Linked DNA regions of Homo sapiens. The protein of the gene in region 1 purifies or fractionates together with the protein of each later gene. This does not show direct contact. Each region holds a gene or a part of one and is shown in the gene's direction. Other genes may lie near its edges.

The links.
Region 2: the proteins of KMT5A (region 1) and AEBP2 purify together in Homo sapiens (co-purification; one study listed by BioGRID). This does not show direct contact.

Annotation. Positions count from the first base shown.
Region 1 is NC_000012.12:123,400,311-123,405,881, forward strand, and holds part of KMT5A (N-lysine methyltransferase KMT5A), read left to right. Parts: intron 1-3,262; coding exon 3,263-3,322; intron 3,323-4,328; exon of another isoform or gene 4,329-4,441; intron 4,442-4,573; coding exon 4,574-4,764; intron 4,765-5,571. UniProt on the Homo sapiens protein: Protein-lysine N-methyltransferase that monomethylates both histones and non-histone proteins. Specifically monomethylates 'Lys-20' of histone H4 (H4K20me1).
Region 2 is NC_000012.12:19,518,486-19,523,792, forward strand, and holds the end of AEBP2 (zinc finger protein AEBP2), read left to right. Parts: 3' UTR 1-189; coding exon of another isoform or gene 190-235; 3' UTR 236-3,742; downstream 3,743-5,307. UniProt on the Homo sapiens protein: Acts as an accessory subunit for the core Polycomb repressive complex 2 (PRC2), which mediates histone H3K27 (H3K27me3) trimethylation on chromatin leading to transcriptional repression of the affected target gene.

The DNA of each region.
Region 1 (5,571 bases):
AGGCGTGAGCCACCGTGCCCAGCCAAAAAGTTTTTAAAATGTTTTTATTTTGCAATTTTTTTTTTTTTGAGACAGAGTCTCACTCTGTAGCCCGCGCTGGAGTGCAGGTGTGCGATCTCGGCTCACTGCAACCTCCACCTCCCAGGTTCAAGCAATTCTCCTGCCTCAACCTCCCAAGTAGCTGGGATTATAGGCGCTTGCCACCACGCCCAGCTAATTTTTGTGTTTTTAGTAGAGACAGAGTTTCACCATGTTGGTCAGGCTGGCCTCAAACTCCTGACCTTGTGATCCGCCCACCTTGGCCTCCCAAAGTGCTAGGATTACAGATGTGAGCCACCGCGCCTGGCCAATAATTTTAATTTTATAGAAAAGTTGCAAAGATAATACAGAGAGTTCCCCAGACTCCTTACCCATCTTCTCTCACTTAAGTTACTCTGGTGAATTTGTCACAGCTAAGTAACAACCAACATTGGTATATTACTGTTGGTTGAAGTTTTTTTTTTGTTTTTTGTTTTTTGTTTTGAGACAAGGTCTCACTCTGTTGCCCAGGCTGGAGTACAGTGGCATGATTATGGCTTACTAACCTCCGCCTCCTGGCCTGAGACTCCCAAGTAGCTTGGATTACAAGTGTGCACCACTATGCCCGGCTGATTTTTGTATTTTTAGTAGAGACAGGGTTTCGTCATGTTGGCCAGGCTGGTCTCGAACTCCTGACCTCAGGTGATCCACCTGCCTTGGCCTCCCAAACTGCTGGGATTACAGGCATGAGCCACTGTACCTGACCAAGTTTTGTTGTTGTTTTTTTTAAATCTATTCCACCAATATATATCTTTCTTTTTTTTTTTTTTTTTTTTTTGAGATGGAGTCTTGCTCTGTTGCCAAGGCTGGAGTGCAGTGGCGCGATCTTGGCTCACTGCAAGCTCCGCCTCCCGGGCTCACACCATTCTCCTGCCTCAGCCTCCCGAGTAGCTGGGACTACAGGTGCCCACCACCATGCCCGGCTAATTTTTTGTATTTTTAGTAGAGATGGGGTTTCACCATGTTAGCCAGGATGGTCTCGATCTCCTGACTTCGTGATCCGCCCGCCTCGGCCTCCCAAAGTGCTGGGATAACAGGTGTATATCTTTCTTTTTTTTTTAACCTTCTTGACCCTTATCTTTCATATCTTTTAAGTGGAACATTTTAGTCCATTTATGTTTAAGGTTAATATTGATATGTGAGGTTTTGTTAGGTATATTACTATTAAATAAGTTTATGGGAAGGTTTTTTTTTGTTTTTTGTTTCTTTTTGAGATGGAGTCTTGCTCTGTCTCCCAGGCTGGAGTGCAGTGGTGCGATCTTGGCCTACTGCAAACTCCACCTCCTGGGTTCAAGCGATTCTCCTGCCTCAGCCTCCTGAGTAGCCGGGATTACAGGTGTGTGCCACCACGCCCAGCTAATTTTTGTGTTTTTAGTAGAGACGGGGTTTCGCCATGTTGGCCAGGCTGGTCTCAAACTCGTAACCTCAAGTGATCCACCCACCTCAGCCTCCCAAAGTGCTGGGATGACAGACGTGAGCCACCATGCCTGGTCATGTTTTCTGTTTTTTTTTAAGACAGGGTCTCACTCTGTTGCCCAGGCAGGAGTGCAGTGTCACAGTCATGACTCACTGCAGCCTCAACCTCCTGGGCTCCAGCAATCCTCCTCCTTCCTCAGCCTCTAGAGTAGCTGGGACCAAAGGTGTACGCCACCACACCTAGCTTATTTATTTTTTGTAGGGACAGGGTCTGGATCTGTTGCTTAGGCTGGTCTCTAACTCCTGTCCTTAAGCGATCCTTCCTCCTGGCTTTCCTGAAGTGTTGGGATTACAGGAGAGAGCCACTGCCCCTGGCCTCATTTACATTTTAAAAGACCCCTCTGGCTACCTTGTGGAGAACTGAGTGTTCCCTGGGGTCAGAGTGAAAGCCTGGTGACTAGCAAGGGGGCCGGAGCGGGGCCGGGGCCGTGGCTGGGCTGCAGGGCCGCAGTGGGAATGGAGATGGAGAGGAGGTGGCAGGATTTGGGACTGTCCTTGAGGTTACTCATTCACCATTGTTCCCAGCACAGACTGCAGCGCCTGGCACATTGCAGGTGTGGATTGAGTGCCTGGAAAAGCTGCAAGCTGGTTTGGGCCTCTGTGTAGGGGGAATGGGCTGAGCTCAGCAGTTGGTGTCAGGCTCCTGACACGTGCCATCTGGTTTGGTGAAAGTCTATGCCGTCAAGACATGCTGGTTTGGGGTGAGCCACACTGGTTTGGAGCTTCCGATCTGTCTTCATTTGGTTCCCTTTTGCTCTGTAGTATCTGTGCAGTGGCAGAGCAGTAGAACCCAGGGTTAGGGATGGAGGTAGGTGCAGGAGGGGTGGCCTTAGAGGAGAGGTGGATCCAGGGGTGCCCCCTCCCAGTTCTCTGTTCAGGTCTGTATTGACCCTCGGGATTGGAGGCCCTCTTCTCATCCATCGTGGTGGCCTCCATACAGGTGAATCTCAGCGATCCCAAACAGAAGTATGAGCCATCAGACCAGAGCCATGTGGACTGCGTGTGTCCCATCCAAAGGGCACAGCCTCTGATCTGCTGTACCCGATTTTCTTTTTTCTTTTTAAGGTGGAGTCTTGCTGTGTCGCCCAGGCTGGAGTGCAGTAGCACAATCTTGGCTCACTGCAACCTCCACCTCCCAGGTTCAAGCGATTCTCCTGCCTCAGCCTCCCGAGTAGCTGGGACTACAGGCTCCTACCACACCTGGCTAATTTTTGTATCTTTAATAGAGACAGGGTTTTACCTATTTGCCAGGCTGGTCTCGAACTCGTGACCTTACGATCCGCCCGCCTCGGCCTCCCGAAGTGTTGCGATTACAGGCGTGAGCCACCGCGCCTGGCCCACTGTACCTGATTTTCTGTGAAGTCAGAGGCCTGATTTTCAGGTGTGGGCAAGTTGGACATTTTTTAACGTGCTGCATGGGCAACAGAACATATCTACGAGCCCCATTCTGTTCTTGGGTCCCCACTGTTTCCCTCCTGATCCAGTTGAACCCCAGGTGACAGATCTTCCACAACAGATGGGTGATGAGAAAAGGAGGGATACTTGGGGGCTTTGCCATCACTGGGGACCCATCATCCCCAGTGATGCCAAATGAGGCCGATTGTGGCCCGGTGGGCATGGCCTGGGCAATCAGGGCTCAAGACCATCAAGCTACGCACGATGGGCCTAGGAGAAGATACTGATGCTGTTTTTCTTTCTCTCTGCCCAGTCTGAAGAAAGGAAAAGAATAGATGAATTGATTGAAAGTGGGAAGGAAGAAGGAATGAAGGTAAGGGGCTGCTGTGCTTGCTGCATCATAGCTAAAGCTGGAAGAGCTCACCTTCCCTGGTCCCGTGGCTGAGAGTGGCCACCATGTGGCTTTCACCCTCTAATGGCCATGGTGACCAGGCAGACTCTATTAGGTTGTCAAAGAGCCAAATACCAAAAGTTGTTAAGGAAATGTCTTATGAAGGAAACATAAATGGGCTTTGTATATAAATGTTATCCAGGGGAAGCTTTTCTTAGAAATTGTGGTTAAACAATTCAGTGGCTTTTTGTACATTCACAATGCAATGCAACCATTATCCCTGTCTAATTTCAGAATTTTTTCATCCTCCCAAATGGAAACCCTTACCCATTACTTACCACTGCCCACCATCCCCACCTCTCCCCTGCCCAGCCCCTGGCAGCCACTCAGCTGCTTTCTGTCTCAGTGGAGTTGCTCTTCTGGGCACTTCATATAAATCGGATTATACAATATGTAGCTGATGCCCAGGGAAACTTTTAAAAGGAGAAACTAATACATTTTTAAACTGTTTTCCTAGATAATGACAATGCCCAAGAAATGTGCTTTTCTCTTACTGTATTTCAACCACACTCAGTTTGGGCGAGAGGAGAAGTACTCTCTACAGTGGGGTTCAGATGGGCCTAGACTAGGGCTCCGGGTTCAGAAAGCTTCCACTTCCACCCACCACCTAGGGGGATTCCGGCTTAAGTCCTGGGCCCCTCCAGCAACCCCATTCAACTCCATGTAGAATAGAGTGAGGAGACACAGGAGAGAAATCGTGGAATGAGGTAGAGACCCAGAACACTGGGCCTGCTGTTTGCCTAGGAAGGCATAGCGCATAGCCCCTAGACAGAGAAACCAGGTGTGTGGATTTGAGCTGTGTCACTGTCTAGCTGTGTGGCCTCAGACACGTGGTTGTGCCTCTTTAAGCCTCAGTTTCCTCATCTACAAAATGGGGCAGTCTCCACCTAGCAGATCTCTCACGAGCTCTGATGTAACTGCTTTGCAGATGAGCACCAAGGAACCACGTTTGTGGAGTGAGGGAACGTTCTAGAGCTGGCCTGTAGTGACGGTTGCACAGCTGTATACACTTCATAAAACCCATCAGCCTGTACATGTAAAGTGAGTGAATTTTATGACATGGCTCAGTACAGCTGTTAAAGACTGGGGTAAGCCCCAGCTCCCCGGAGACCTGCTGTGCACAGTGGCATCCATTGCTATTATGAACCAACACCCTCTCTTATCACCTGACAGATTGACCTCATCGATGGCAAAGGCAGGGGTGTGATTGCCACCAAGCAGTTCTCCCGGGGTGACTTTGTGGTGGAATACCACGGGGACCTCATCGAGATCACCGACGCCAAGAAACGGGAGGCTCTGTACGCACAGGACCCTTCCACGGGCTGCTACATGTACTATTTTCAGTATCTGAGCAAAACCTACTGGTGAGTCCACTGTTGCTTAGAGTGGCTTTTCTGTCCTCTGGGCAGTGAGGAGAGGCCAAAGGGCCAGGAACTCCTGATTCTGTTTGGTGGCCAGTCTTTTGGTTTTGTTGTTGTTGACTTTTTTTTTTTTATTTTTTGAGATGGAGTCTTGCTCTGTTGCCCAGGCTGGAGTGCAGTGGTGTGATCTCGGCTCATTGCAACCTCCTCTCAGGCTCAAAGAATTCTCCTCCCTCAGCCTCCAGAGTAGCCCAGCTAATTTTTTTTTTCTGTATTTTTAGTAGAGGTGGAGTTTTGCCACATTGGCCAAGCTGGTCTTGAACTCCTGACCTCAGACGATCCACCCGCCTTGGCCTTCCAAAGTGCTAGGATTACAGGTGTGAGCCACTGCGCTCGGGCTGTTGTTGCCTTTTTTCAAAGCTGTGATGCAATTATCGCCTGCTTCCTTTTTTTTTTTTTTTTTTTTTTTTTTGAATCTCGATCTGTCGCCCAAGCTGGAGTGCAGTGGCACAATCTTGGCTCACTGCAACCTCCACCTCCCGGGTTCAAGGTATTCTGTCTCAGCCTCCCACGTAACTGGGATTACAGGTGTGCGTCACCACGCCCAGCTAATTCTTATATATTTTTTTAGTAGAGACAGGGTTTCATTATGTTGGCCAGGCTGGTCTGACCTCATATGGTCTGCCTGCCTTAGCCTCCCAAAGTTCTGGGATTACAGATGTGAGCCACTGCGCCTGGCCCCAGCTTCCCTTTTTTTTTTTCTTTTGAGACGGAGTCTCGTTCTGTCACCCAGGCTGGAGTGCAGTGGTG
Region 2 (5,307 bases), about 100 Mb from region 1:
GAAAGAAAAACAATTACAACATGTGCCCTTACAAATACCAAAAGCACTGTAAGGATATTTGTCTTGACAGTGTTTATTGATTTGAAGTCATATTAGGAAATATTTAGACAATGAAAATTATCAAGAGATAATTTACCTTTCAATTATGATAAATAGATGTGATTGGTTGCCATTTGTGTTCTTTTGCAGAACTCTGATAAGAAAAGTGTTCAATTTGTATTTAAGCAAACAGTGAACGACGTTTGCAATCAACTAAAAATTCGTCTATCGAATTAGGGCTGAAAATTACTGTTAAAGAGTGTTGCAGTATGTCTGGTGGCTCCCTTTTCAGGACTAGGGCTTTCTCATGGAGTACAGTATGTTAATATTTACCTATATAACTAATCTGTTAACGGTTTTTGAAAAACCTTTCAAATTATTTGAATAATCTTCATATTTTCATTTAACCTATATGACTCTAATTTTTTTTCTGAGGAAATCATTTGGTTTTTGAGTTGTTTTTTCTTAATGTAAGAAAAATTGTATTTTTTTTACAAGTATCTTCAAACTGAATCTTTTATGCACCAAAGTTGGTCTTGAAAAGGAAAATAAAATCACTTTCTTGCTTGGTAAGCAAGAAGCCATATCGATTTTTTTTAACTTACAGAAATGGAAATATGTGTAACTTGTTAGTATTGTATTAAACAAATGTTGCATAGAGATAATAGAACATTGCTTGTAAATAATTCAGCAGATTTGTAATATATTTTTATATTTTGAAATGTACTGTAGATGTTTTCTAGAGGCATGAAAGTTAAATGTATATATTATGGTAGAAATAATATTGAAGGATATTGTACTTCACTAGTGCTGCCAGAGGAATTGTTAATAAAAGCACCTTCTTTAACAATAAATGTCTTTCACAGACTTAAGGGACTATGTACTACTGTTAATATCTCTAAGAACAAAACACATTGAACATCCTTCCAGAAAGTCTTTGAGGGAGGACCTATACCCATAATAGAATTATGGCACTCATTTCTGACAGTGATCAAGAAATCAGTTATTTCCTTACTGTTGGAAGGACATTGTAAAGTATGTGGTTATATGCAGTGAAACTGCAGAAAATACTCCTGGTTGAGGAGTTTTCACTTTACTACAGTGATATAAAAACCAGCAGTTTTTACACTAAATTTTTTAAAGAAATATTAGACAAAAATATAGAATTAAAACCTTTGGTTCCAAAATGGGAAAGGTTCCACGATACATAAATCATTTCTCATTTGCTTTAAAAAATTTAAAAGTGTAAAAATTATGAGAGACTTTATTCGTTAACAATGGGGGTAAAGAGCTATATACATGAAAATGAGTCTTATAAAATTAAGTGAAGTGCAAATAAAAGCACTGCTACTATAAGACATTCTGGAATGGTTGTTTAATAAGGGTATTATCCATTTGATCTATAGCAATGTGATTTTATTTTTAAAAAGAAAAGCAGTGTGTTTTCTTTTTTTGTTGTTTTCTTTTGCTTAAGCACTTCATCAATTGCTTTATTCTGTATCTGCGAAGTAATCTGCAATCTCTTTTGTTCTTTTTAAAATTTGATTTGTTATAAAATTGCCAAATAGAAGTGTTTCAGATACATAGTTTGTACCTGTATTTTTATTTTATTGCCTCATGTTCTTGTAAGTCATTCTTAATTGACCAATGATTGTAGACCTTGCTTGAGTATTTTTTCTAATAAAACAAAGCAAATCACATTTAGCTTCAAATTGTAACAATTCAATTGAATTTTAAAATGACACCTGAAAAGATACATCTGATATTTTCTATATAGAGCACAGTAAATAAGTTTTTTCATTGTGTAGAAATACTTAGATGTCAAAACCAGATTTCGTGATCCTTGATTAACTTCTGAGTACTCAATCAATCATAATCCTTTTGCTGCTTATCTGATGTTGGTTTGATACTGTTAACACACCAAAAAGAATATGGAATTGAAATGAGCTAGCTTTATAACTTGTATGTATACATATATACACATAACATCCAATTATGACTGGGTAATAAGTGTGAAAATTTTAATTTGTGGTTTTCATTTATTAATGTCTGCCCATCTGTATTGTTGCTCCTACCTTCAAATATGACACCTGAAATAATAAGTCTGTTGTCCAGAATTTATGTATTGTTCAGCATCAAGCAAACTACAGCTCACAAGCATACCCATTTATATGTTGTCTATGCCTGCTTTCTCCTGCAGTGGCAGAATTGAGTGGTGAGACCTTAGGTCCTGCAAGCCCCCAATTTTTACTACAGGTTGGCAATCCCTAATCCAAAAATCTGACATAAAAAATGCTCCAAAGTTCAAAACTTTCTGAGTGCTGACATCATGCTGCAAGTGGAAAATTCCACGCCTGACCTCATGTGACTGGTCATAGTCAAAACAATTAAGACTTTGTTTCATGCACAAAATTATTAAAACTGTTGTATAAAATTACCTTCAGTCTATGTGTATAAGGTGTTTGTGAGATATAAATGAACTTTATGTTTAGTCTTGGATCGCATTTCTGAGTCTCATTATGTATATGCAGATACTCAAAAATCTGAAAAAAATCAAAAATCTGAAATACTTCTGGTCCCAAGCATTTCGGATAAGGGATACTCAGCCTGTCTCTGGTCCTTTAAGAAAAAGTTTTCGATTCCTTTGTCTAGTTGACAAAAAGTTTGGAAACATAAACTTAGACCACACAACTTGCATTTTAATATGACAATGTTGATCTTGGTAATAAGCCAGTACATTAAATTTTAGTGAAAGCTGTTTCATGTATTTTACAGTAAATACTGCCATATTAGGTACCTACAACAAATGGTGGTTTTTGGAAACTTTTACGGTGGGTTTTTAAAGTTATTAATAGTCCATCATTTCATCATTTGTGTTTCTGTATTTATTTTGCTAAGAACTAAATAAGATTTTGTACATCAGATTGTGTTTGAACCGTAAGGCACATCTGCTTTATCTAAAAGAATCTTAAGGTGGAAATAGTGTAAAATTTAAAATTTTTTATATTTCTAATAAACTTTTTATATATAAATGTTACCTAAAGTGGACACATGTTACTTCTGAATTTCACATGAAAGGAAATTAAAGATGGACAATAATTATCTCTCAATATTTTAAGATTTGTTTTACTAATTGAAAACAGTATGTCAGTAAATCTTTGGCCTTAGTGCTTTTTTCCCCCTTTTACACATTAATAAAATGTTTTAAATATGGTAATACTCTTAAAACGGTAGAATTTGCCACAGTTGTTTAAAGCATTTTTATTTTTTCTTTGAATTCTTAATTCATGGTGAACAGATGTTGGGTTCTTAAAATATAAAAATGAGAAAATATGTATTAAAAATACTTGATAGAGGGTTTTCTCTTTAATCACAACTTAAAAAAAGAAACCTTTAATACCTCTGCATAAGTTCTCTGAAAGAACTTAAATTCTTAGTTTATATGAAAACTGATATGTATGTCTGTGTAACAAAGCCTGTTGGGTACAGGTCTACAAGGAGATACTTTGTTTCTAAAAAAGGAGTTAAATCGTGTCACCTGAATTTTTTTTTTTTGAGATAAGTGGACATTTTGGGGATTTTGGTTAAAACATATTTCTCTATTCTAAAAATTACAGAATATGTATTCATAAAAGGGAAGAAATTGTTAGAAAATTTCCTGTGTACGTAGTTTGTTTTTAAATTAAAGAATCTTGTGACCTGGTGTAGGACATTTTGCATTTGTAACACTGCAGTTTTAATATATTTGCTGTTTTTTTTAAAATTAGAATATGTTTAAAATTTAATGGTTATGAGGCTCTGTAGCCTTAAAATGTTTTATAGTAGTAAAATGTATTATTTTCATCTTAAAAAAAACTAAATATTTACATTGCATAATTTATTTATTGAATCAAGTTTACGTGGTCTAACACATGGTTCTGTTAATCTGAAAATTGAAAAGGATTTGTAAGCAGGTTAGAGCAGGAATTGCAACCCAGATTTTTTTTTTTCTAGGTCAGAATTCTTTTCACTATACCAAACTGCTGCTCACAGTGTGAGAACATGAATGTACATTGTGATACCACTATAAAGTTGTGTCCAGTGTTTCTGCCACAGCCAGTCTAGCATGATCATTCATGGCACAAAATAGTCTGTAAAATTTGTTAAATGAGTATTATAGGTGAGTAATTTTTACAGTAAAATACTTTGGAGAATTAACAGTGATAAAACAGTAGTAGGGTTGAAGTGACCTGGCTTAAGCCACATTCTGTGATAGTGTCAGGTACCTTTTCATAAGAACCTTATATACGGATATAGTGGTTCATGCTTGTAATCCCAACTACTTGGGAGGGTAAGAAGGGAGGATTGCTTGAGGCCAAGAGTTCCAGGCTACAGTGAGCTATGATTGGACCACTGCATTCCAGTCTGGGTGACACAGCGAGACCCCACCTCTTTATTTTTCGCTACGGAGTCTTGCTCTCTTGCTGAGGCTGAAGTGCAGTGGTGTGATCTCAGCTCACTGCACCCTCTGCTTCCGGCTTCAAGTGGTTCTTGTGGCTCAGCCTCCCACGTAGCTGGGACTACAGGTGCGTGCCACCATGCCCAGCTAATTTTTGTATTTTTTAGTAGGGACGGGGTTTTGCCATGTTGGCCAGCCTGGGCTTGAAATCCTTACCGCAGGTGATTCTCCCACCTCTGCCTCCCAAAGTGCTGGCATTACAGGCATGAGCCACTGTGCCTGGCCCCCGCCTCTTTAAACAACAACAAAAGTTCTAATAAAAGGAACTGTGCTTCAGTTTGTTTAGACATTCTTAGTGTAAAGGGTTATTGATGTTATGTTTTTACATATTGGATGTAATATTTTGGCTTACTTGATTTTATTTAAAAATGTTCCTTTTTGTCCTGTTTTATGATGTAAATAACTTTTTTTTTTTTTTTTTTTTTTGAGACAGATTCTTACTCTGTCGCCCAGGCTGTAGTGCAGTGGCGGGATTGTAGCTCGCTGCAGCTTCAAAACGCCTTGGGCTCAAGTGACCCTGTCGCGTTGGCCTCCCGAGTAGCTAGGCCTCCAGGCATGCACCACCACGCTGGCTTTTTTAATATATTGCCCAGGCTGGTCTTCAACTCATGGTATTACAGGTGTGAGCCGAGCCACTGCACCTGGCCCAACATTTTTTTTTTAAAAAACACTATTTTGAAGGAGCTATGCAGTATTTGGTTTCCTGTTTTTTGAGATGGAATCTCTCTCTCTTGCTCAGGCTGGGGTGCAATGGCACAATCGCTGCTCAC